3 linked regions of the Homo sapiens genome follow. The protein of the gene in region 3 binds, or shares a complex with, the protein of the main gene of each other region. Each region holds a gene or a part of one and is shown on either strand. Other genes may lie near its edges.

Region 1 (8,496 bases), on a different chromosome or scaffold from region 3:
CCCGCCTCGACCTCCCAAAGTGCTGGGATTACAGGCATGAGCCACCGCGCCCGGCCAATTTTGACATTTTATACTGCAGTGGCTATCAATAGTTTGTAACATGTGGAGTCCCTAATTTTGAAACACAGGGATTTTTTTTTTTCTTCAGATTGCCTTTTCCAAATATCTGTTTAGAATTTTTCACTTCACATCCAACCAAAGCTATGTATGAGGAGAGAAGCATAGACCTCAAGAATAGACACTGAACCTAATGGAAGAATGTAAAAAGTACCTGGTAAACAAGCTGCTTTACAGTCCTGTGGTTCATGCTGTTAGTGGTAGGGTGTGTAAATCATAATATTGAAAGTAGTGTGTTATGCAGTGTTGAAAAGGTATATTAAACATAAAGGTAATTGAATTCTGGATTCTCCATAGAAAAACAAACTTTTTGATGTGCGGAAGTATTTTGTACTTCTAATAAAGAGGAAGGGTTAAAGCAAACTTCTGCCTTTAACTGACACATTAGTTATTTGTTATCTTATTAGGTCACTGTAACCTAGAACCTGAACTGACTGTCTTAGAAAAAAAAGTATGTAGTCCTATGTTGGTCCTGAAAGGTGAGGGCAGTTTTTTTATACACCACCTGATTAAAGCATTTTATTGATCAAAATAATCTGCAGAATTGTCATGTGAAATACACCTAGTAATTGTTACGTTGTTTCTGGATATACTTGACAGAAATCCAGGTCTTTTAACATTGGGAAAATAAGTATTATTCGTGTATTCCCATTTAACCAGTTTTAATACTATGAGCTGCACACACGGGCCTAACGAGGCAGACTTTTTAAGAAACAACTTTAAGTAGAAGCCCTTACACCCCCCCCCCAAAATAATTTGGAGGCAGAAAATGTTACTGAACTTATCTATTTTTTTAATTGTAGTAGTACTGAAAAAGTAACTTCAGATTGTGGTAAATTGAAGGATTTGACTGGGTCAAAGATGTTAGAGATTAAATGTGAATTCGCAGAATGTAATGCATCGAAATTTGCTAAGTCTGAAAGTAACAGATTGGCAGGATGCGGTGGCTCACGCCTGTAATCCCAGCACTTTGGGAGGCCGAGGCGGGTGGATCACCTGAGGTCAGGAGTTCGAGACCAGCCTGGCCAACATGGTGAAACCCTGTCTCTACTAAAAATACAAAAATTAGCCAGCCGTGGTGGCAGCTGCCTGTAATCCCAGCTATTCGGGAGGCTGAGGCAGGAGAATCGCTTGAACCCGGGAGGTGGAAGTTGCAGAGAGCTGAGATCCCCCCACTGCACTCACAGCCTGTGCAAGAAGAGCGAAACTCGTTTCAGAAAAAATAATTTAATTAAAAATAAAGTAACGGATGATGAAAACAATGTATTTAATGAAGTACAGATGTGACTTAAATCACAGCGAAATAATAGACTTTCAGCTCTGAGATAATTGAGTCCCTTTGGGGTTTAAAAAAAGATAAAAGTTTAAACAAGTGCTTGGTTGGTGTGGGGCATATGTCCTATTATGAATATTTTACAATGTTAACTTTAAGATTATAATTTAATTATCTTTATAATCTTAAATCTTGTGCTACGGCTTCGCATTCTATTGAAAGGTTAAACTTACCAAATGGATTAATACTATCAAATCTTTTTATTAAAATTGACTCTTGATTAAAATTGGAGCTTTATGTTGTTAACAATTCTCCTTTATGGAAACATCACTTTTAAAAAGTCGATTTTAAAATGATGTTTAGCAAAATGGAGCTACTGTTCCACAGTAGTTTAACTTTTCATTGGGTTGTCTAGGGTGCGTTGTTCCATTTATGAGGGGGTGGCAACTTAACCTTTCCTCTCCTGTTACCTAGACTGGTTTGGGGAGGAGATTTGGTGTAATTAAGATGTTAATGATGTTTTCATATTGATACTACCCTACAGTCACCTTTGAAACTGTTACAAGTAGGATCTAACCACCATAATCCAGCACCTTGGTTCTATAGGATTCTAACAGGACAGGATGGTCTTTATACTCCCACCTTTTCTGTATTACTGGCACAATATACATTGTTACTAAGCCCAAGTTAAGAACTATTTATAAGAAGTGGATGGGAGTTGTTTGTTTTTAATTATGGGGAAATGGGAAATATGTACATATCCTTGATATGAGAAAAAAATGGTTACCCCATTTCCAAAACTTAGTAATAAAAACCTAGTTTAAATTTAAATCACTTTGAAAGAAACCAACAGTCTCTTTCTTTAACCTTTAATATTTTAAACCAATATTTTTAGTCCCTTTATCTGGAGCTGTAAAGATCAATCTAGATTTCTCCATTCTATCCACTCTCTTGGAAGTGAAGAGAAATACATGAAATCTCAATTATAGTAGAAGCAAAGTTTAACAAACTAATTACAGATAGTTTGAATTAGAAAAGAATTGAGAGTATGGGGATTTTTGCATTAGATTACAATTACTTCAGATAAAATCAAAGAGAATTAATAAAATGTTTCAGCTTTCTATACTGTCCAAAGGTATTTTTGCATAAAGTTGCTAAGCTAGGGTTCTGAGGATTATGTGGAAATAATTCTGGAAGTGATGGATTCCCACCATATGCCTATAAAATGTTAGAATATATTTTTCTAGGGAGAAGGTTCACACTTGTCATCAATTTCTCAAAGTATCGGTAATGGGCTGGGGCAGAAAGCCCAGGGGTTAAGATCAGCTGTTCCATAAATTTCAAACTGAGTCATTTTGGTTTTATCTCAGTTTGGCAGTTACTAAATAGACTTAGTCAAAGGAGGATAATTGAAAAAGGACAGGCAGTCCAGGAAGAGACTAAGGATTCTTGAATACAGAAGGGACCTTTTGAACACTTTACATGCCTATGCACCTGAAATGTTAGTATTAACTTTTGTTTCAGTATACCATTTGAATGTGTTTATGTATCTAATGGTATTTTGTGGGTGCTTTTCATGATCAGCAATGGCATTTGTACTGAATTACATTTTTTTCTGTTAATAGGACTTAATTAAAAGTACTGCCTACAGTGTAGCTTAAATTTTGTAAACGAGAGAAAAAATTCTGCATAAAGGTTCATGAATGTGTGGGCAGGATTAAATATACCAACCAATCCTGTTAAAAATGGCTGGGTTTTAGTTTTATATTTTGCATTCTACTGTGTCATGGTATGTACTGGTAGTAATGGTAGAAACATAGAATCTATACACACACACAGACACACACACACAGACATGTGTCCATGTTTTAAAGCACTTAGTAATGGCAAGAGTCCTTTTTATGTATGTAAAGATGTGATTTCTGATTACATTTATTACTCAATTTTCTTGAAAAGTTAAGGATGCTTAATTGTTAACAGCAGTTAGTTAAAAGCAGAAGATAGCATTTTAAGGGAGCAATAATACCATGGAATTGTATCATTTGTGATTGTACTTCTTAGAAGAAGAGATGCACAAGGAAATGAGAATTTTATATTGTAATTCAGGAATAAAAAGAATTGAGCGTGTCTAAGGGCAAAAGTGATATGAAAGTATGACATACTTTCAGAGACAACTAGAGTATGTATTTACTTTTAAAGTAGACTTTTGGAACACTGAAGTGTGACTTGCATTGATAACAATAACTTTTTGGTAAGAATAAACCAAATTCTGAGAAATCAATGAGAAGACAAGGGATTCAAATGTTTTAAACAACTTGCTAGAATTGCGGGTTTTTTTTTGAGTCAAAGTCTTGCTCTGTCACCCAGGCTGGAGAGCAGTGACACGATCATAGCTCACTGCAGCTGCAGCCTCAACCTCCCTAGCTCAAGCAGTCCTCTCACCTCAGCCTTACAAGTAGCTGAGACTACAGGTACACACCACCACGCCTAATTTTTTCTATTTTTATTTTTAAATATTCACCATGTTGCCTGGGCTGTTCTCAAACTCTTGGGCTCAAGTGATCCACCCACCTTGGTCTCCCAAAGTGCTGAGATTATAGGCGAGAACCACTGCACCTGGCCCTAGAATTGCTTTTAATTTATTGATGCTAACTGTTGCCTTCAACACATTTATAAACTGTAGAAAATCTTTCTTGATTAGGTGTATTAAATCCTGTAATAATAGGTAGTGATTTTGAGTTCTTACAGTATTTTAAATATAGTGGACACTCAACTTTGCACCTTTAAATATATGAAGTGAATTCCATCTACCAACCCTGCTGTAATAGGTATATGAAAAACAAAAGCAAACTTGCTGTACTTATTACATCTACTATAATATGTTATCTGAGGTGTAGCTTTGATCAATGCAGATACAATCAATTTTTTAAAAGATAAAGCCCTCCCTCAAGTATTTGTTGTAATGGAGGTTATCTTTAAAGTTTTGGTTCAGTTTTTGGATATGTGTTGTGATAATCACTTGCTGAATTGCAAAGCAGATTATTTAAGCAAATCGTTTTGGTTGAATTTCCCTCAGTATAGCAAGTACTGACTGAAGAAATTGGATGTGACCTTAGAGTGAATCTAGGGGCAAACATGACCTGAGGTTTAAAATGTCCTGTGAATGATTTAATATAGGTTCTAATCTTTTTATATATTGGGATGAACTATTTTGATAATGTAGCAATTGTATATCCTCTGAGCATCCAAATAGCAATTGTGTATCCTAAGGAAACTTTCCCTACCTTGATTTTGTATCCATTGACAAGTCACTTAACGTCACTGAAAGAACTTTAGTCTCTGCATTTCTTAAGTCTTCTGAGCTACCTTACAAAATAGCTCTGAGGAGTGAATAAGGCAGTGTATGAAAAATCATGTACAGATGAATTTCATTATTACCAAACACTAATAGAATTTTTAGAACGGCCTTGCTTTTTGTTCTCAGAAGATACTTAACATTATATTTTGTATTTGGGATTGTGTGACATAAAAGTGTTAGATGTATTTTGTGTCCTTAGAGAGTTGTATGATATGATTGTGAAAAACTATGTATTTTAACTTAGGTTGTTATTATTATTATTACTATTGAGAGAGAGTTCACTCTGTCACCCAGGCTGGAGTGCAGTGGCATGATCTCGGCTCATTGCCACCTCCACCTCCCAGATTCAAGCGATTCTCGTGCCTCAGCCTCCTGAGTAGCTGGGGCTACAGGTGTGTGCCACCATGCCCAGCTAATTTAGGTAATTATTAATAGGAAAAAGCATCAAACTCGGAGTTACTAGATGTAAGGCCTTACTCTAGCCTCTAGCTCTGCTTCCACATGCCCCAGGTTTTCTTGACTGTAAGATGCAGTAGGCCTATGGTAGTTTCCTGTTGTAATGAGAATATTCTGTTGCCATTATATTTAAATCTGTTTCCAAAAGAATTTTATGTGTTTAGAGAATAGTCATTAAATCTTGAGTTAATCTCATTTGCATATTATGTAGACATAATTTGCATGGAAGTAAAGGTGCATGGATAGTTGGTTCCAGTTTAAGAAGGGTCAAGTTCTAAAAGCCAGTCTCTAAAGGATTTAAAGATGTAATTGGATGCAGTAGTCAGAAAATAACTTTTATTGTCATGAGAATTTGAGATTAGAGCCAGAATTTATTATTATTTTTATTATTTTATTTATTTATTTATTTATTTTTTTTGAGACAAGGTCTCCCTCTGTTGCCCAGGCTGGAGTGTAGTGGTGTGATCTCGGCTCATTGCAGCCTCAGCCTCCTGGGCTCCAGGCTCCTCCCACCTCAGCCTCCTGAGTAGCTGAAACTCCAGGAGGATGCCACCATATGTTCTTATGTGGCAGTGGAACAAGATACTACAGAATTTTAGTTAGAAGGAGAAGGATAATTTTCTTTGGGTAGGTGGTTAGGAAACATGTGGCCTGAAACTTGAGTGGTGGTAATGAGCCGTGGGAAGATCTGCATGAGGAATAATCCAGAGAGACCTACAGGTGCACAGAGCCTGAGCTGAAACAGGAGGCCATTGTACTCAGAGCAGAGTGAGCAGGGGGTTGTAGATTAGGAGATGAGGACACATACGTACTCACGATCCAGATCAGGAAGGGATTGTTAGGCTACCATGAGAAGTTTTGACTGTGTTGAAATGAAGTAAGCTATTAGCGAGTTTAAGGGAGTGACATGATCTGATTTAATGGTTTTTCAAGATTATTCTGGCTACCATGTGGAGAATGAGTCATACTGGGCAAGAGTGATGATGGTGGCTTTAAGTAGGGTTGGTGCTAGTGGAAATGAAGAGAAATGGATGGATTTGAGATATATTTTGAGGAGCCAGAACCAACAGAACTTGCTGGTGGATTTGAATGTACTAGATGGAGAGAGAGAATCCGAGGATGAACCTCCAAGTTGAGCAGCTGGATAGATGAGTGGGCCTCTTACAGGGAAGGGACAGTTAGGGGTGGGGGATGTAGAAGGGATGGACTTGTTCAGTTTGAAATGTGCCTCTTTCGTCCTGATTGGATATGTGAGAATATGCACATTAGAGCAGTTTGTGCTAGAAGTGTATAATTTGGAAGTCATGAGTTGGTCCTATAAATCTGAGAGTCTTCAGCTTATGAATCGCATGGAATGCTGTGCTCTGGGACTCAGAGGAGGAGCTACTGAAAAGATTTTCTTCATTTTTAGAATAAAAGCATCTCAAGAAGGAAGGACATTGGTTAACTATGTCCACTGAGAAGATGAAAGTATGGGAAAGTAATTTAATTAGATATGTGCCATTGGCATGTTTTGGTGGAGTGGTGAGAAGGAAAGCCCAGCTGGAGTAGAAGAAATAATAGAAGATGAAAAAGGGGACATAGCAAGTATAGTCAACTCTTTGGAATAGCTCTGCTATGAAAGAGAGAAAAAAACAGGGCTGGAGTAGCTGGAGGAGGCTCCCAGATCAGCAAATGATTTCTTTTAAAAATTAGTTACAAAGTTCCATCAGGCACAAATGAAGGAAACAAATGAAGCTGAGCCCTAGATTGACCCACTTCACTGCCTTGAGAGTTTTCAGATTGCAGCACAGGGATGGGAAATTCCAAACAGATGTGGCAGCTCCTTCAGTTGAAGAAACAGAATTCAGAGTGTGGGGAGGCCTAAGTGACTTTGGAGCAGAGTACCAGGGCTGCACAGAAAAAGAGCTCCAGATATTCACAGGGTGTCCCTTCGAGTGTCTAGCTGAAAACTGATCTGATCCTGTCCATGAGGAACTTCCAAGTCTAGGGAAAAGCAAGAGGAAAGAAAGAACAGTTTGGGAAGCTCATAGGGCTGAGACTGTGCTACACATTCCCACTAACCAGAATGGAAAGGCCTCAATACACAGCGTATCAAGTAGAACCCTCAGAAGGGTTATTGTCTCAGTAGTGAGGCCGAGGCCAGATTAGTTCTAAAGACTGTTCTGGACTTGCCCTAACAAAGATTGAGTACTAGCCTCAAAAGAATCAAACTAAATTTCAAGTAACTTGATTGTGTCCCAGAACAAAGGCCAAAAATGTTTAAAGGAATATTTAGAGATCCTGCAACATAAAGCTCAGTGTTTAGCATCCAATAAAAAATTATCAGGCATTTAAAGAAGCTGGAAAATATGGCCCATAATTAGGGAAAAAATTAACAGAGACATAGAAATAACCCAGGTAATCAAATTAGATTAAAATGTTAAAGCTACAAATAAAAGCAAGAATTACTAGAACTTGTAGAATTATTTCATTTGAAAAGTATGAAATAATCCCATCCTCTCTCCTACTCAAGGACTTCACTCCTAATAACTATTTTATGTCTCTCCTGGATCCATTTAATGGAGATATTGGTTACTAATTCCAACAGGAACTTTTTTTTTTCCTTTGTGAAAGGAAGGCAGATAAATGAGAAAAGATGCATGTCAGTCGTTAAGAGTTGATTATGACAGGATGAGGTAGTTTATCCTATGGTTGTATTTTCTCTATGAGGTATGAGTGAGGTCATCACCTCAAGAGTGAGGGAGAACCTTCAGAGATGAGGTAGGTATAGGAGAGCTAACTTAGAAAAATGTAAAAGGATTGATAGACTTGCTGAGGGCTCAATATTTGTGATCATTTAAAGTGAGACCAGTCAGCTCACTTGGGCAGTAGCATTCACTTGAGTTCCAGCACAAAGTAGGTAGATAGGGTTTGTCAAGGGTCAATGTTTGGCCAGCAAGTAGAAAGGAGGAAGACAGGGATGAAGGCATTAAAAATTAGGTAGTAGGCCGGGCACGGTGGCTCACACCTGTAATCCCAGCACTTTGAGAAGCCGAGGCAGGTGGATCACGAGCTCAGGAGTTCGAGACCAGCCTGGCCAACATGGTGAAACCCAGTCTCTACTAAAAATAACAAAAATTAACTGGACATGGCGGCAGACGCCTGTAATCCCAGCTACTCCAGAGGCTGATGCAGGAGAATTGCTTGAACCTGGGAGGTGGGAGTTGCAGTGAGCCGAGATCGTGCCATTGCACTCCAGCCTGGACAATAAGAGCAAAACTCCGTCTCAAAAAAAAAAAAAAAAAAGAAA
Region 2 (8,496 bases), about 19 Mb from region 3:
TTACTTATATCAATTGAAATTACTGAATATTTTGCCATGACCATTTAGAAAAAAAGTGTAATGCTATTGATTTAATTCAAGTACATTTAAATTTTCCATGAGGAGTGTTCCTTTTCCCACCAAATTGCATAAAGCATAACAGTATAGATCCCTTTTTCAAGAATTTTTAAATAAAATGTAACTTTTATCAATTTGTTTAGATTGTTTAAAAGGATACTTTGAAAAAAATCATTATTTCTTGCTTTAGTAACTGGAGGACATCTCTTTATCTATATAGAATCCATGCCCAAACTTAATATTCCTCTATTTTCTTGATTTTAGAGGTGAAAAGCCAGGCATCCTTCAAGCTAGTGGATCTTTGACAAAGATGCATTGCAAAACAATCAACAAACAATCAGAAAGGCATGCTATGTGTGAGTGATGATCCCTGCAGCATATGCCATAGGCTTGTTGTAGAGGAGCTGCTCAGTAAATGGTGGATTCAATTGAAACAAGTCTTTTTTGGATGCTTAATGGGAAGTTGTAGGGTGGGTATGATGGACTAAAAATTATTTCTAAAGAAGGTTATATATTGTATATATTCCAGAATCTTCCGTTTTTATCGTTTCTTAAATTAAAAAATAAAAATTTAACTCTGTCCCAGGTTAACTCAGATGTTAACACTTATATAGAAATTTTTTTCCTCTTTCCCCGTTAGGCATCTCACAGTATTTTCTGCTTGTCTGTTTAGGATGTTAGGTAGAGGAAAAGAGAGTGATAGAAGATTTTTTTTCTTAAAAAAAAAAAAAAAAAAAAAAAAAAACTGGGCCAGGCATGGTGGCTCACACCTGTAATCCCAGCACTCTGGGAGGCCGAAGCGGGTAGATCACAAGGTCAGGGTTCGAGACCAGCCTGACCAACATGGTGAAACCCCGTCTCTACTAAAAATACAAAAATTAGCCGGGTGCGGTGGCGCGTGCCTATAATCTCAGCTACTCAGGAGGCTGAGGCAGGAGAATCGCTTGAACCTGGGAGGTGGAGGTTGCAGTGAGCCGAGATCACGCCACGGCACTCCAGGCTGGGTGAAAGAGTGAGACTCCATCTCCAAAAAAAAAAAAAAAAAAAAAAGTTCAATGTTAGTATTTGCTGTCTATTTTAACTTCTTACTTTAAAGTAAAATTAGCAAAGTCTTATTGTTTCAACCTGATTTAAATTTTATCTCCCTTTTTTATTATTTAAAGGTTGGAGTCTTTATCACTGGCCTCAAAGGATGTAGACTTTTTTTTTTTAATAGAGATTTTTATTTTTGTCAGTCACTTTTAAGAGGATTAAAAATGTTGATCCCTTTCATATTTCCTCGTCCCTTTAAAAATATTCTATTATGACAAATTTCAAACATATGGAAGAGTGAATCTTGATCACCTATCTGTCTGTACCCTAATCCGTTAATCCATTTTTTTCTGATGAATTTCAAATTAAGTTGTGGACATCTGTGTATTTCACCCCTAAATACTTGAGCATATCCCTCATTTAACTTGATTTCTCTCTTACTTTCTACAATTTTATGCAAATGAGCTGTTTCCCATAGGTTCTGTCTTGATCTTAATCCTTTAAGGGTAAGGGCTAACTTGTGGTTGTGTTAATGGTCTTCATCGCTGCTGCCTATTTTTTTTTTTTAATTTCCTTAAAACAAAAGGTACTCTCAAAAGGCATATTGCACATGATTAGCAAGATTCAGAAGGAAGTGGTTAAAGTTTCTTACATGCCTTATACCTATGCTTTTAGTTCTTGTTTTGTATAAGGAATGTTGCATGAGGATATTGGAAAAAAATTTAAAATTAAGAGTTGAAGGCGGAACCTGATCTATAAGGATCCATTATGTTGAAGCCAAAGAAGCAGGTCTAGCTATTCTAAGTAAGTAGGCTGGAGAGGTGTTTCTTAACTCTATCTGGGTTTTGTTTTCCATTTGAAGAAAAATTATTTTAAGCAATTACCATTTTTGATTACTGTAATGACTCCTGTGTCCAAAAATTAATTACGTTTCTAATTATTAAAATAGAAAAAAAAATCTGTTCAAATTTTGTTATAAATAAAGACCCCAGACTTAACCTCAGTAATGCATTAGTTCTTAGCATAACTTTTGCATTTTCTGTTGCATAGGCTTTGTGATCTTTAACAGGATTATTTAAGCCTGAAATAATAGAGATACTATTTGGAGATCACTGTTTGACTAAGCCCTGAACATTTCCACGAATGTAGCCTTTAGAGAGAGAGGGTTCCTCAAGCTGTAGTTTCTTCCAGAGACATTGCTTGACTCCTCCTGGCCTCCCTTCATAAAGGATTTCTACATGGGCTGCATTTTAAGTGATCTTCTACTTTTGTATTTTTAGAAAATAATTCAAAATTTATAAATAGCAACTCTAATCTTAAACTGCTCTCCAGTATGTCCGCATTTTTATTCCAGAGAGAATTATTAATAAGTTGAAAACTGATTATATTTGACTTGAAATATTGACATTGATCTCTGGTATTGCCTGTTTTTGAACGTACTGTTCTTTTAATGTACAAAATAGATGTTTTTTGTGAGGAAGTTGTTTTTTTTTCTCCTAAGCATTGTTACCAAAATAAGACTTATTGAATGGTGACTTTAATACTAGCTTCTTAATATTCATAGAAATATTTAGATATCTAGGCTGGTGTATTTAGTCCTTGAGCATTTGCAGAATTACTTATCTGAAACATAAATAAGCTGTTAGTGTTATGTTATTAATAGTGAGTGTTGACTGTCTAGGCACTGTACCAGTCAGTCCTATGGAGACATTCTCCCATTGATTGCTCACACCAGTCCTGTTTCCAAAGCCCCTGAATGGTTACATTCAGCTGTACTGTCTTTCAGCAAGTTATACTATTTGTATCAAATTGGTTAGTGAAATCTTGTAGGTAATAGTCTTTCTTGAAAGTTTTGGAATTGATGTTTTTTGATGCTTCATGAAAAAAATGAGTTTTGAGTTTTGGAACCAAAATAGTAGTTGCTCCATGCTGGGCAGTGTGTTAGACCTTTTATATTTAATTCTGTTGAACCTGTGAGATAAGTATTAGTCCAATTTTGCCATTGAAGTTACTAAGACTAAGGTGAATTTGTGTAAATTGCATGTAGAGCTTGGGATTCACTCTCTGGTCTGACTTCAAAGCCATGTTCTTTCTGGTACATAGCCTTGTGCATGAAGTTTTTTTGCCATTTTATCCATATAAAAATTTTCCAGGAGGAGGATTTTTGCCTTAAACAAAAGAATAAAACATGTTTCGTATTTATTTATAGAAAAGGATTTTTTTTGGGGAAAGTTATAAAGCAGTTGCACACTAGAAAATGAGAAAGCTTTCATGAAGGAATGCAGGTCAGAAGACCTAGCTAGGTTAAACTCATTGCTTACCTCATCTTGATAGAGGAGATCTGGCTTCTTGCTATGTGGTTTTTCCATCTTCCTTCTACTTTGTCTTCTGTAAGAGAAAAATACTGATAAGTGACATTTATTATAGGTTATGTAAAATAATATATATGTGAAATTCCTTAAGATCTTAAGACTGAGCTAATTTTTTTTTATTAATTATGCTACTGTTGCTTCAGGGAACTAAGCAGTAAGCTGAAACCAATTCTGTGATGTTTGTCATTTATATTATCTGGAGAGTTGTTACCTACATTGCAGTTTATCCTGATTTCAATTTGACAATGTCTACATGTTCTTTTAAATTACTTGCTGAGTTGGTGAATTTTTGTTTCTGTTATTTTTAAAAACTGACAACATCCTTCTGCTTAAAAAAAATTCAGTGCTGTAGTTTTGCTTGCAGCCTGTATCTTAGCAGGGAACCCTTTGGAAACCCAGTCTCCAGAGAAAGTTTGACGGGCATCTTGGCATAGGCTGCTGCCTGGTATTACTCAAAAAGAAGGGCTGTTCATTTCCAGCAGGTGTTAAGAGCTGAGTAAGGCCCATAGCATGGAAATACGATCATCTCTGCCCCTACAGAGTTACATATACCTTTTGGTTGTTTGAAATTACTTATTTGGTAGCTCTGTTTGATGTAACAAGAAACAGACTCCTAGGCCAAATTGAAACGCCTTTTGTATTATCTCTACTTAATTTCTTCTACCCCCAGTTGATTCTCTCTTACCTTAATCACATTATTATGAATAATTGAAGAGCTGATGATGCATTTTTCAGCCTAAGGTTTTCTGATGAGGACTAAAGCATCTGATCAAATTTCATGTTCATGATTTCAACTTCACAGCCAGTATCTATTCACTCAAAAGCTTTATTAAATCTCTTCTTTCGGCCGGGTGTGGTGGCTCATGCCTGTAATCCCAGCACTTTGGGAGGCTGCGGTGGGGGGATCGCTTGAAGCCAGGAGTTCGAGACCAGCCTGGCCAACGTGGCGAAGAAACCTAATCTCTATGGAAGATACAAAAATTAGCTGGGCGTGGTGTCATGCGTCTGTAGTCTCAGCTACTCAGGAGGCTAAGGCAGGGGAATCACTTGAACCCAGGAGGTGGAGGTTGCAGTGAGCTGAGATTGTGCCACTGCACTCCAGCCTGGGCAACAGAGAGAGACTCTGTCTTAAAATAAATAAATCTCTTCTTTTTTCATCTTGAGTCCCTTCTTCTCTCCAAATATCAGGCCCTCTTTTACTGTCTCCCTTAATTTTCACATTTTATTTGGTCCAGATAGTCTTGTATCTTAAAAAACAGTAATTCTCAAAATTTGAGTATTCTGCTTCTAAATGCCAGAGTCCCTGAAGAGTCTTAATTCTTCAATAAATGTATGGTAGAATAATGCCATTGCTAAACTGTATAAAAACAGGATTTTAAAACTAAAAATAAAACCACATTAATCTTGAATTTGCTAAAATTATGTTTTTGATTAGCTTGTTTTATGATACCTGGCCTACTGGGCCTCCCAAATTGCTGGGATTACAGGCGTGAGCCACCACACACGACTGAAAGAAGAGATTTAATAAAGCTTTTGAGTGAGGCCAGGTGCAGTGGCTCACGCCTGTAACTCTAGCACTTCAGGAGGCTGAAGTGGGAGGATCATGAGGTCAGGAGTTCAAGACCAGCCTGACCAACATGGTGAAACCTCCTCTCTACTGAAAATACAAAAACTAGCCTTGCATGGTGGCGCACACTTGTAATCCCAGCTACTCAGGAGGCTGAGGCAGGAGAATTGCTTGAACCCGGGAGGTGGAGGGTGCAGTGAGCCGAGATCACGCCACTGCACTTTAGCCTGGGCGACGGAGCGACACTCTGTCTCAAAAAAAAAAAAAAAAAAAAAAAAAAAAAAAAAAAAAAAAAAAAAAAAAAAAAAAAAAGAAAAATCGTTAATAATGTGTGTATTTGGTGTTTTCTGTCAACAGGAAGAAGGTAGATAATGACTATAATGCCCTTCGAGAAAGACTCAGCACCTTGCCTGATAAATTGTCTTATAATATAATGGTATGTTTGGTGTGTTTCTTTTAAAGTAATAGTTGTTTCTTGTAAACATATTAACTATGTGTCGGTTCACAGAATGTCAGGCTGATGGACTGTGTCCAAGGTAACTATGTAGCAAGGAAGATTTGTTTTGTTTTACTTTATAAGAACACAGTAATTGTAGTAATTGTTGGTATTTACCTTTTTTTTTCAGAATATATATGGTGACACAAATGACATAAATATTAGCACAAAATTGGACATATTTCAAATGGAAACTTACTATATAAAAAATGTAATTATGACAGAAATATGGTACTAAGTCGTTTCTTGTTAGCCAGAGCAGGAATAGGCCATAATGTTTTGTAATTCACAGAATTAAACCTTAGGACATTGATTTTTATATAAAAACGTGCTGCTAATTTTTGTTTTAATGATCTTCACATCGACATAGTGATCTGTTCATGAGCCCTGGATTAGAGCCTTTCATTGCATGAATGTTCTTTCTTATGAAGACTTTGTTCTTTTATACTAGTCCAAGTATTTTGTATATATAGCTAGATAGATCCATTAAAGCTATTTGTTTACTAATTCCTGCTTTGCAAAAGTGTCTACTTTATTGAAAATAATTTTTAGTTTTCTTTATCAAAAGTATTTTGCATTGACAATGTTTCACTACTAGTTGCTTTCACTTAGATTTGCAAGTGAATGAAAAGTATAAACATGCCGAGACAGTACTACTTTCTTTAAGAGCTATATGTAAATATGGTGTGGATTTATTTTCCTGTTTTAACATTGATTTATGAACATAAAGCAATTTTCTTTAGATTTTCCTAGTAAAATTTTAATATAGTGTTGAATTTCTGTGAAGCTGGCATTTTATTTTTCCCAATGTATAAATAAAAAAATTCAGTTATGTAAGGCTTTTAATGCGAAGTGTTTTATAAAATGTACTTTTCAGTGTTTTATGTTTTTTCCCTTTTTTCTTTTTTTTTAAACAATAGGTACCATTTGGCCCTTTTGCCTTCATGCCAGGAAAACTTGTCCATACTAATGAAGTCACTGTTTTACTGGGGGACAACTGGTTTGCAAAGTGCTCAGCAAAGCAGGCTGTAGGTTTAGTTGAGCACCGGAAAGAACGTAGGTACCCATTTTAAATGATGTTTCTTTGTTGTATATGTATCCATTCACAGATTGCCAAGCTGAAGGGCTGTTTCTTACCAAAAGTACCTTCCGTGATCTATGAATCCAGGCTGTTTGTGATTCTGTTGAATTGTAGGTAGTTTGAGTAGAACCAACATTTGAGAATGAGCTGGAGAATGGAGCATCCGGGTTGGAAATGTCACCTACATTGGCATGTTTTCAGAAGTTACAAAGTTTCAAAGTCATTATGTGATTTTGTAGTTAGAAGTTGGGAAGACATAAAAATTGGAGTCATTTTATACCTTATAATTTTTTTTTAGTTGCTATTATAGACTTATTTTTGCACTTAATACTTTAGTACACAGAAATAATGTGTTTTCTCCTTAGTGAACTAAGAGAAATACCTGTTTACATAAGTAGACAATTCTTAAAAATGCTTTTTGGTTTGGAAAAAAAACCATATTTTCATTTGATAGAGGAGACCAGGTGTGAAAAGGTGCTACCTAAAACAGCACCCTTATCCTTTTTCAGTTGTTTGAGTTCTCTGCATCCCTTTATTAGGGCAGCTCTTGAGTTTTGTTTATCCGTGCTATTATCTGTAGGTGTATAGAAGCCTACATACACACACACAACACACACTACACATTTTGCAGTTGGATGAGCTAGCTTGGGTTCTAGCTTAGTTATATTTTAAAATTAGGTTCAGTTTATAATCTGTTGTTATTTCTGTAATACGTATTTAGATTGAGAGTATAATATCCGCCCTACCTGCTTTTTAACCTTTTAGTTAAATGTGTATTTGAAAATAAATGATGGGAAGATCCTTTTTTATAAATAAGGTCATACTAAACAGAAAACAGCTGAGTTTTCTAAAGCTGAACTTGATTTCACTTATACATGAATGAGTACTAGAGAACTCATTTACTCAGTGAAATTCTGGGAACTATATTTGGAGACTCTAATTGCAAATCAACTCCTATAAGTTTATAATTGATATATATTTTGATCTTTTGTGACACTAATCAGAATCTTATTGTTAGGCCTGTATGTAATTTCTGGCAATGATAAATCTTTTGGCTTTGCTGCATTATTTTTGTCATGTATATTAGCGAAAGAGAATGGGCATACTTTTTTCTTAAAGACCTTACTGAAGACGAAGCCTCTCTTTATATACTGAAGTAGCTCTGATGTTATGAAATGAATCCATAGCCTGTTGAAGTTTGTTCACATTGATTTTCATATTTCAGTGAAAAAAATCTTTATAATTAGTTATAACTTAAAATATTAATGGGAATACTTATACTACAATAGAATAGAGCTCTAGAGTAGAGAAACATGTTTTTGTAAATCACTTTCTAGTAGTTAAATATGGTTTTGGAAAGTGACCAAACATAGATGACTTTTGGGATCAATATTTATCTAAAATAATTTTCAAAGTACATATTTCCTGTTACAATAAATTCTGGGCCGGGCGCAGGGGCTCATGCCTGTAATCCCAGCACTTTGGGAGGACAAGGCAGGTGGATCACCTGAGGTCAGGAGTCCGAGACCAGCCCGACCAACGTGGTAAAACCTCGTCTCTACTAAAAATACAAAAATTAGCCGGGCGTGGTGGTGTGTGCCTGTAGTCCCAGCTACTTGGGAGGCTGAGACAGGAGAATCACTTGAACCCAGGAGGTGGAGGTTGCAGTGAGCTGAGATTGTGCCACTGCACTCCAGCCTGGGCAACAAAGCGAAATTTTGTCTCAAAAAAAAAAAAAAAATTACGTAAAGCTCTTTTATTCACATGGTTTTATAATTTATACCTGAAGAAAATACTTAGGTATATTGTTGTACTTCACATTTATTAAGAAAAGGTACTTTATTTTTCTTAAGGCAGAGGAAATATAACCAGTTAAACACATAGTCATCTA
Region 3 (8,496 bases):
ACTACAGGTGCGCGTCACCACGCCCAGCTAATTTTTGTATCTGTGTGTGTGTGTGTGTGTGTGTGTGTGTGTGTGTGTGTTAGTGATAGAGTCTTGCTCTGATGCCCAGGCTGGAGTGCAGTGGCGCGATCTCTGCTCGCTACAACCTCCGCCTCCTGGGTTCAAGCAATTCTCCTGCCTCAGCCTCCCAAGTACCTGGGATTACAGGCACCTGCCACCACGCCTGGCTAATTTTTTGTATTTTTAGTGTAGACTGGGTTTCACCATGTTGGCCAGGCTAGTCTCGAACTCCTGACCTCAAGTGATCCACCTGCCTTGACCTCCCAAAGTGCTGGGATTACGGGCGTGAGCCACCGTGCCTGACCTAATTTTTGTATTTTTAGTAGAGACAGGGTTTCACCATGTTGGCCAGGCTGGTCTCGAACCCCTGACCTCAAGTGATTTGCCTGCTTCAGCCTCCCAAAGTGCTGGTATTACAGGTGGGAGCCACTACGCCCAGCCTGTTGTTTTTTTTTTTTCTTAATAGCTTTATTGAGATAGAATTCACGTACTACATAATTCACCCATTTAAAGTATACAGCTCAGTGTTTTCTAGTATATTCACAGACTTGTGCAGCCATTTCCACAGTCAATTTTAGAACATTGTCGTCACCCCAAAAAGAAACCCCATGCCTCTTACCTGTCACCGCTAATCCTTCCATACCTCCCATCTTCAGTTCTAGGCAGCCACTAATCTTTCTCTGTATATGGATTTGCCTATTGTGGCTACTTCATATAGATGGAATCATACCATATGTGTCTTTCGTGTGTGGCTTCTTTCAGTCAGTATAATGTTTTCAAAGTTCATCCACGTTGTAGCATGTATCAGAACTCCATTCCTGGCCGGGCGCGGTGGCTCACGCCTATAACCCCAACGCTTTGGGGTGCCAAGGCAGGTGGATCACCTGAGGTCAGGAGTTCAAGACCAGCCTGGCCAACATGGTGAAACCCCATCTCTACTAAAAAATACAAAAAAATATTAGCCAGGTGTGGTGGCGGACACCTGTAATCCCAGCTACTCGGGAGGCTGAGGCAGAAGAATCACTTGAACCCAGGAAGCAGAGGTTGTAGTGAGCCAAGATTGCGCCATTGCACTCCAGCCTAGGTGACAGAGTGAGACTATGTCTCAAAAAAAAAAAAAAAAGAAAAGAAAAAAGAACTCCATTCCTTTTTATGACTGAATAATATTCCTTTGCACAAATAGACCCTGTTTTATTTTGCCATTCATCAGCTGATGGACATGTGGGTTGTTTCTATCTTTTGGCTGTTGTGAATAGTGCTGCCGTGAACACTCGTGTCCATGTTTTGTGTGGACCTCTGGGGGGGTCCTGAATTGTCCCGGGTGGTGTTTACTCACCTCCCTCCCCCATGTGAGAAGGGGTGGTAGCTGGCTCCTCTCTGTGGAGAACTGTCAACATGGGAAGCCTCGGTATATTCTTGTTGAATGAGCTCAGCACTTTAGAGTATCACTTAGCAAACCACAGACATTGAGTCCCGAGGTGAACAAGAGAGAACAGGCCGTGCCCTTCATGGGACTCATGTCCACTGGAGCAGAGAATATTGATCCATCCATCTCCCTCGGGAATGTGAGATCACACAGGGAGATCGGGCTCCCAGGGAGGCCTTTCATCTGTCTGAATGTCTAGAGGTCCTAGAACTAGCCTGGCAGGGCTGTTGGACAGAAAGGGCCTCCCCTAGGGGGCAGCACTTGATCTAATTCAGTGAGAGGGCAGGGAGAGCAGTCTGGACTCAGGGGCCAGCATGTGCAAGGCCTGGTGGTTGAGAACTGGGGCCGCCTGGTACAAGGGATGCTGGGAAATTAGCAGGGGCCAGAGCATGTCCAGCTCCATGCCTGCTCCTCATTGGTGTCTGTCCTTATGGAGCTCACAGTTATTAGAAATGGGGAGGACTTGTCTGGGCACGGTGGTTCACACCTGTAATCCCAGCACTTTGGGAGGCCTTGGTGGGCAGATCACTTGAGGTCAGGAGTTCGAGACCAGCCTGGCCAACCCCAGTAGAGATGGGCGAAACCCCATCTCTATTAAAAATACAAAAAAAATTAGCCAAGTGTGGTGGTGTGCGCCTGTAGTCCCAGCTACTCAGGAGGCTGAGGCGGGAGAATCGGTTAAACCCAGGAGGCGGAGGTTGCAATGAGCTGAGATCGGGCCACTGCACTCCAACCTGGGCGACAGAGCAGACTCCGTCTCAAAAAATAAGAAAAAAAAAAAAGAAATGGGGAGGACTTAGCCGGGCACAGTGGCTCACGCCCATAATCCCAGCACTCTGGGAGGCCAAGGCTGGTGTATCACTTGAGGCCAGGAGTTTGAGACCAGCCTGGCCAACATGGCAAAACCCCATCTCTACTAAAAATACAAAAATTAGCCGGGTGTGTTGATGCGCGCCTGTAATCCCAGCTAGTCAGGAGGCTGAGGCAGAGAATTTCTTGAACCCAGGAGGCGGAGGTTGCAGTGAGCCGAGATTGGGCCACTGCACTCCAGCCTGGGTGACAGAGCGAGACTTCATCTCAAAAAAAAAAAAAGAAACAGGGAGGATTTCATTCATTCACCAAATAACCAAATATGTGCTGGACCCTGAGGACCAAGCTGTCGATGAGACAGACAGTCCTTGTCTTCCTGGGGCTCAACCAACCAGCCATTAGGCAGTGACAGGCAAGAGGGGTGGGGGTGACTGGTGCCTGTCCCATCGCCTGCCTGTGAGGGGAAGGAGTGGAAAGGACCATCTCATGGGAGGGACAGAGGAGGGGTTGGTGAAAGCTGGGACCACACTAGTCCTCTGACACATCTTCTTGCACCCCCAGACAGCCACAACCAAAGTCCCGGAGATCCGTGATGTAACAAGGATTGAGCGAATCGGTGAGTGAGTTGGGTCAGGAATAGGACCTAAGCCCTGCCTGCCATGTGCCCTGACAGAGCAAACCTATTGAGGACCCCTAAGATGGAGAGGGAGGTGGCCTGCACACCAACTGTGCCCCCACTACCATTCCCCCACTCGCCCTATCTAATGGGGGAGGAGGATCCTCAGTTCCAGAGTTGGGTCAGATGATGCACTGGGGACCAGGCTGCTATCCTGGCTATCCTGGTGGGGTTCCCGGGTATGTTTGCCTGGAAGTCATAGATATTTACTGGGTGCTTTACTGGGTTTGGCCTCGTATACCCAGTACACACTGTGGGGTGAGTTCCCTGAGGGCAGGGACGAGGTCGTGTCATTCCTAGCTGTGTCCCTAGCACAGGACCTAACAGAGCAGATGATCAAGAGATAACCATTGAATGCACGAGTTTGCGTCCTGTGGAGCCCTCGCAGTAGCCGCATGAGGTGCATATTGTAACTGTTAGCTGAGGGAACTGATTTTCAGGACAGCTAAATCACTGGCCCCGGCTCACACAGAGCAGGAAGTTGAGACGCAGTGAGGCCAGCAGGGTGCGCTCTCACAAAGAGCTTTACCGGCAGGGAAGTGACCGCATTCATTCATGCAGCAGGCTCACTGATTCAGGGCATCCGAGAAAGGCAGTAAGGGCTTCTGGCTGTGAAGATGGGTTTTAGAAGCCCAGTGCTGGATTCCTGGAGCTTAGCTCTGCCACTTTCCCACCATGTGGCCAGGGACTAGTTCCTCTCTGTGCCTCAGTTTCCTTATCTGCAAGACGAAGCTAAGATAGTTTACCTCATCAGTTAATGTAAGATTCAGTAAGGTAGTTCATATAAAGCATTTTGGGTCTGTGTGCCAACACTGTTTCATCTATTAAAAGTGCTGGGGCACTGGGTGCAGTGGCTCATGCCTGTAATTCCAGCACTTTGGAAGGCCAAGGTGGGCGGATCACCTGAGGTCAGGAATTTGAGACCAGCCTGGCCAACATGGTGAAACCTCGTCTCTACTAAAAATACAAAAATTTGCTGGGCGTGGTGGCGCGTGCCTGTAATCCCAGCTACTCGGGAGGCTGAGGCAGGAAAATTGCTTGAACGAGGAGGTGGAGGTTGCAGTGAGCCAAGATCATGCCATTGCACTCCAGCCTGGGTGACAAGAGTGAAACTCTGTCTCTCAATAAATAAATAAATAAAAGTGCCGAGACTGGGTGCTGTAGCTCACGCCTGTAATCCCAGCACTTTGGGAGGCCGAGGCGGGTGGATCACCTGAAGTCAGGAGTTTGAGACCAGCTTGGCCAACATGGTGAAACCCTGTCTCTACTAAAAATACAAAAATTAGCCAGGCATGGTGGTGCATGCCTATAGTCCCAGCTACTAGGGAGGATGGCTTGAACCTGGGAGGCAGAGGTTGCAGTGAGCCAATATCGTGCCACTGCACTCCAGCTTGGGTGACAGAGTGACTCCATCTCAAAAACAAACAAAAAGTGCCAAGTATGGCCGGGCATGATGGGTCACGCCTGTAATCCTAGCACTTTGAGAGGTGGAGTCAGGAGGATTGCTTGAATCAGGAGTTCAAGACCAGCCTGAGTCACATAGTGTGATCCTGTCTCTAAAAAAAAAATAAAAAAATTAGCCGGCAGTGGTGGTCCATGCCTGAGTCCCAGCTACTTGGGAGAACTGCTTGAACCAAGGAGGTTCAGGATGTGGTGAGATGTGACTGCACCATGCACTCCAGCCTGGGTGACAGAGTGAGACGCTCTCTCAAAAAATAAAAATAAAAACATTTTTTTTTTTTTTTGGAGACGGAGTCTCGCTCTGTCGCCCAGGCTGGAGTGCAGTGGCGCAATCTCGGCTCACTGCAAGCTCTGCCTCCCGGGTTCACGCCATTCTCCTGCCTCAGCCTCCCGAGTAGCTGGGACTACAGGCGCCCGCCACCATGCCCGGCTAATTTTTTTGCGTTTTTAGTAGAGATGGAGTTTCCCCGTGTTAGCCAGGATGGTCTCGATCTCCTGACCTCGTGATCCGCCCGCCTCGGCCTCCCAAAGTGCTGGAATTACAGGCATGAGCCACCGCGCCTGGCCAAAAAACAATAAAAAATTAAAAAAAAAAAAAAAGGATGAAGAGCCAAGCACCGCTTGTGAGCTGAGGACCCAGTAGAGACTAGCTGCACCCAGGAGCCTCCCTTGGGGTGCTCACAGTCAAGCACTGGGGTCAGCAAATCTTTCCTTATTTTATTTTATTTTTTTTTTTGAGACGGAGTCTCATTCTGTCCCCCAGGCTGGAGTGCAGTGGCGCAATCTTGGCTCACTGCAAGCTCCACCTCCCGGGTTCACACCATTCTCCTGTCAGCCTTCCGAGTAGCTGGGACTACAGGCGCCTGACACCACGGCCGTCTAATTTTTTATATTTTTAGTAGAGACGTGGTTTCACTGTGTTAGCCAGGATGGTGTCTATCTCCTGACCTCGTGATCCGCCTGCCTCGGCCTCCCAAAATGCTGGGATTACAGGCGTGAGCCACCACGCCTGGACCCTAGCAAATCTTTCTTAAAGGGTCAGATGGTAAATCCTTCCTCTGTTGAAACTACTCAACTCTCCTCTTGCAGTGCGAAGGCAGCCACAGACAGTATATAAATGGCAGTGTTCCAATACAAAGATTTTTTGGTTGGTTTTTTGTTGTTTTTTTTTTGAGATGGAGTCTCACTGTGTTGCCCAGGCTGGAGTGCAGTGGGGCGATCTCAGTTCACTGCAACCTCCACCTCCCTGGTTTAAGTGACTCTCATGCCTCAGCCTCCCGAGTATCTGAGACTACAGGTGCATGCCACCACGCCAGGCTAATTTTTGTATTTTTTAGTAGAGACGGGGTTTCACCATGTTGGCCAGGCTAGTCTCGAACTCCTGACCTCAGGTGATCTGCTTGCCTCTGCCTCCCGAAGTGCTGGGATTATAAGCGTGAGCCACCGTACCCAGCTCCAATAAAATTTTATTTGCAAAAACAGGTGGCTGGCCTCCAGGCTGAGGTTTGCTCAACCCTCATCTAATGTAAAGCATGGGAATCCCATCTTCCCCTCTCGCTGGCTGTGTGGCTGGGGCATGGGACCTAACCTCTCTGAGCTCCCTCCCCATTCATATCAATAGGTTCTGGGACTGTTGCCATTTTGATACTCAGAAGTGCTTTCAGGGTGATAGCAGCCAGGGCTCTTGTTTCATTTTATTTTGTTTTACTGAGACAGGTCTTGCTCTGTCATCCAGGCTAGAATGCAGTGGCACAATCTTGGCTCACTGCAACCTCCGCCTCCCAGGTTCAAGCAATTCTCCTGCCTCAGCCTCCTGAGAAGCTGGGATTACAGTCATCTGCCACCATGCCCAGCTAATTTTTGTATTTTTAGTAGAGACAGGGTTTCACCATGTTGGCCAGGCTGGTCTCGAACTCCTGACCTCCAGTGATCCGCCCGCCTCGGCCTCCCAAAGTGCTGGGATTATAGGCAGGAGCCACTGCGCCCGGCCCCAGCCAGGGCTCTTTTTTTGCAGGATCATATGGAATAAACTGAGAACATGTGGGTGCTGTGTAAACCATAAACATGAAGTAATTGTGATCATTAGCCCTTGTGGTTAGATCTTAGTACAATTATGTGCTTAATCAGGCCTCAGTGACTTTTGTTTAACTAGGATGCATCCTCAGAGCAGCTCCAGTTCATTGAGCATTTACCACATTCAGCCATCTTCCTAGGGAGGTGCCAATTTGGGATATCCTTTCCATGTGCCCCTTCATTCCCCCAACCCCTGCTCCCTACTCCCACCCACCCCTTTGACAAAGAAGGAAACCAGGGCTCAGAGGGGTCAGGCCACATGTGCAGCAAGCTGGCTAGTAACTGAGTCTTTGTTCTTTCCCTTCATGTAGGTGCCCACTCCCACATCCGGGGACTGGGGCTGGACGATGCCTTGGAGCCTCGGCAGGTAGAGCAGAGGAGGCTGGGGTGTGAGGGCCTCTCCATGAAGGTCTTGGGTAGTGGGTACCCAGGGTCCTGGGGAGTGTGGGGACTATGTTACGGTCTTCTGGACCTTTGGCTACATACCCATAAACTTCAACCACATGTGGGTTTTCTTGGTACTAAAGAATTGATTAGGCTAGGTGTGGTGGCTCATGCCTGTAATCTCAGCACTTTGGGAGGCCAAGGTGGGTGGATCACCTGAAGTCAGAGTCAAGACCAGCCTGACCAACATGGTGAAACCCTGTCTCTACTAAAAATACAAAAATTAGCCGGGCATGGTGGTGCATGCCTGTAATTCCAGCTACTCAAGAGCCTAAGGCAGGAGAATTGCTTGAACCTGGGAGGTGGAGGTTGCAATGAGCCGAGATTGTGCCACTGCCCTCCAGCCTGGGTGACATCTCGGAAAAAAAAAAAAAGAATTGGGAGTGGGTAGCAATTGCTTTGCCACCTTAAAAAAAAGTTAGACTGGGTGCAATGGCTCACACTTGTAATCCCAATACTTTGGGAGGCTGAGATGGGAAGATTGCTTGAGCCTAAGAGCTTGAGGCCAGCCTGGGTAACATAGTGACACCTCCTTTCTACAAAAAATTTTAAAAATTAGCTGGACATGGTGGTGCACATTTGTGGTCCCAGCTACTCAAGAGGCTGAGGTGGAAGGATCTCTTGATCCCTAGAGGTCAAGGCTACAGTGAGCCATGATTGTACCACTGTACTTCAGCCTGGGTGACAGAGCGAGATCTTGTCTCAAAAAAAAAAAAAAAAAAAAAAAAAGCAGGGAAAGCTTTTTTGGCTTTTCCTAGAAGTCCCAGCTAGTAATGTCTGCTTCCATCTCACTAGCTTCCTGATGTGGTAGAAATGCCATGGTAGCCCCACAGGAAATCACCTCATGTGCGCCTCCCACCCACAGGCTTCGCAAGGCATGGTGGGTCAGCTGGCGGCACGGCGGGCGGCTGGCGTGGTGCTGGAGATGATCCGGGAAGGGAAGATTGCCGGTCGGGCAGTCCTTATTGCTGGCCAGCCGGGCACGGGGAAGACGGCCATCGCCATGGGTAAGAAACCTCCCAGGGCAGGAACTCTCCTGTTTCCTGCTAAATAACTCCTCCTGTGTAAGTCAGGGTCAGGATGAGCCGCCTTTAACAGATGACCCAAAATGGCAGTGGCTTAAACACTCAGGATTCATTCTTGCCCATGGAAGAATCTAGAGGTAGGCCATTTGGGGCTTATTAAGCAGTTCCAGGAAGTCTTCCATCTTCCTGCCTCACCATCCTCTGCACTTGGTTCCAGTCAAGAGGACGCCATGTTCCAAGAGGGCTGCCAGAGCTCCAGCCTTCCCACTCATAACCCAGGCAGCAGGAAGAAAGGAGTTGCCATGAGGATGAACCCCCTCGAGTTGGCTTCCTTTAAACAGTCATTGGAAATCCTCCATGCTTCTGCTTATATCTCATTATCTCATTGACTAGAATGTAATCATATGATCACACTCTGCTTCAGGGGAGGCTGGCACATTAAATGTTTTTTAAAATTTCATAATTTGGACCATTTTTGCCTTAAGAAAATGAGGATTCTTCTGTTGGGCAAAAGGTTGTTG

Evidence for each region. The genes of interacting proteins can lie anywhere in the genome.
Region 1: RUVBL2 (region 3) and EPC1 share a complex: the UniProt entries of both Homo sapiens proteins name them as parts of the nuA4-related complex.
Region 2: RUVBL2 (region 3) and URI1 share a complex: the UniProt entries of both Homo sapiens proteins name them as parts of the PAQosome complex.

What each region holds. Positions count from the first base shown.
Region 1 is NC_000010.11:32,336,064-32,344,559, reverse strand, and holds part of EPC1 (enhancer of polycomb homolog 1), read left to right. Parts: intron 1-8,496. UniProt on the Homo sapiens protein: Component of the NuA4 histone acetyltransferase (HAT) complex, a multiprotein complex involved in transcriptional activation of select genes principally by acetylation of nucleosomal histones H4 and H2A.
Region 2 is NC_000019.10:29,979,838-29,988,333, forward strand, and holds part of URI1 (unconventional prefoldin RPB5 interactor 1), read left to right. Parts: intron 1-321; exon of another isoform or gene 322-413; intron 414-5,385; coding exon 5,386-5,464; intron 5,465-6,444; coding exon 6,445-6,580; intron 6,581-8,496. UniProt on the Homo sapiens protein: Involved in gene transcription regulation. Acts as a transcriptional repressor in concert with the corepressor UXT to regulate androgen receptor (AR) transcription.
Region 3 is NC_000019.10:48,996,462-49,004,957, forward strand, and holds part of RUVBL2 (ruvB-like 2), read left to right. Parts: intron 1-2,857; coding exon 2,858-2,912; intron 2,913-6,817; coding exon 6,818-6,873; intron 6,874-7,745; exon of another isoform or gene 7,746-7,794; coding exon of another isoform or gene 7,795-7,815; coding exon 7,816-7,957; intron 7,958-8,496. UniProt on the Homo sapiens protein: Possesses single-stranded DNA-stimulated ATPase and ATP-dependent DNA helicase (5' to 3') activity; hexamerization is thought to be critical for ATP hydrolysis and adjacent subunits in the ring-like structure contribute to the ATPase activity.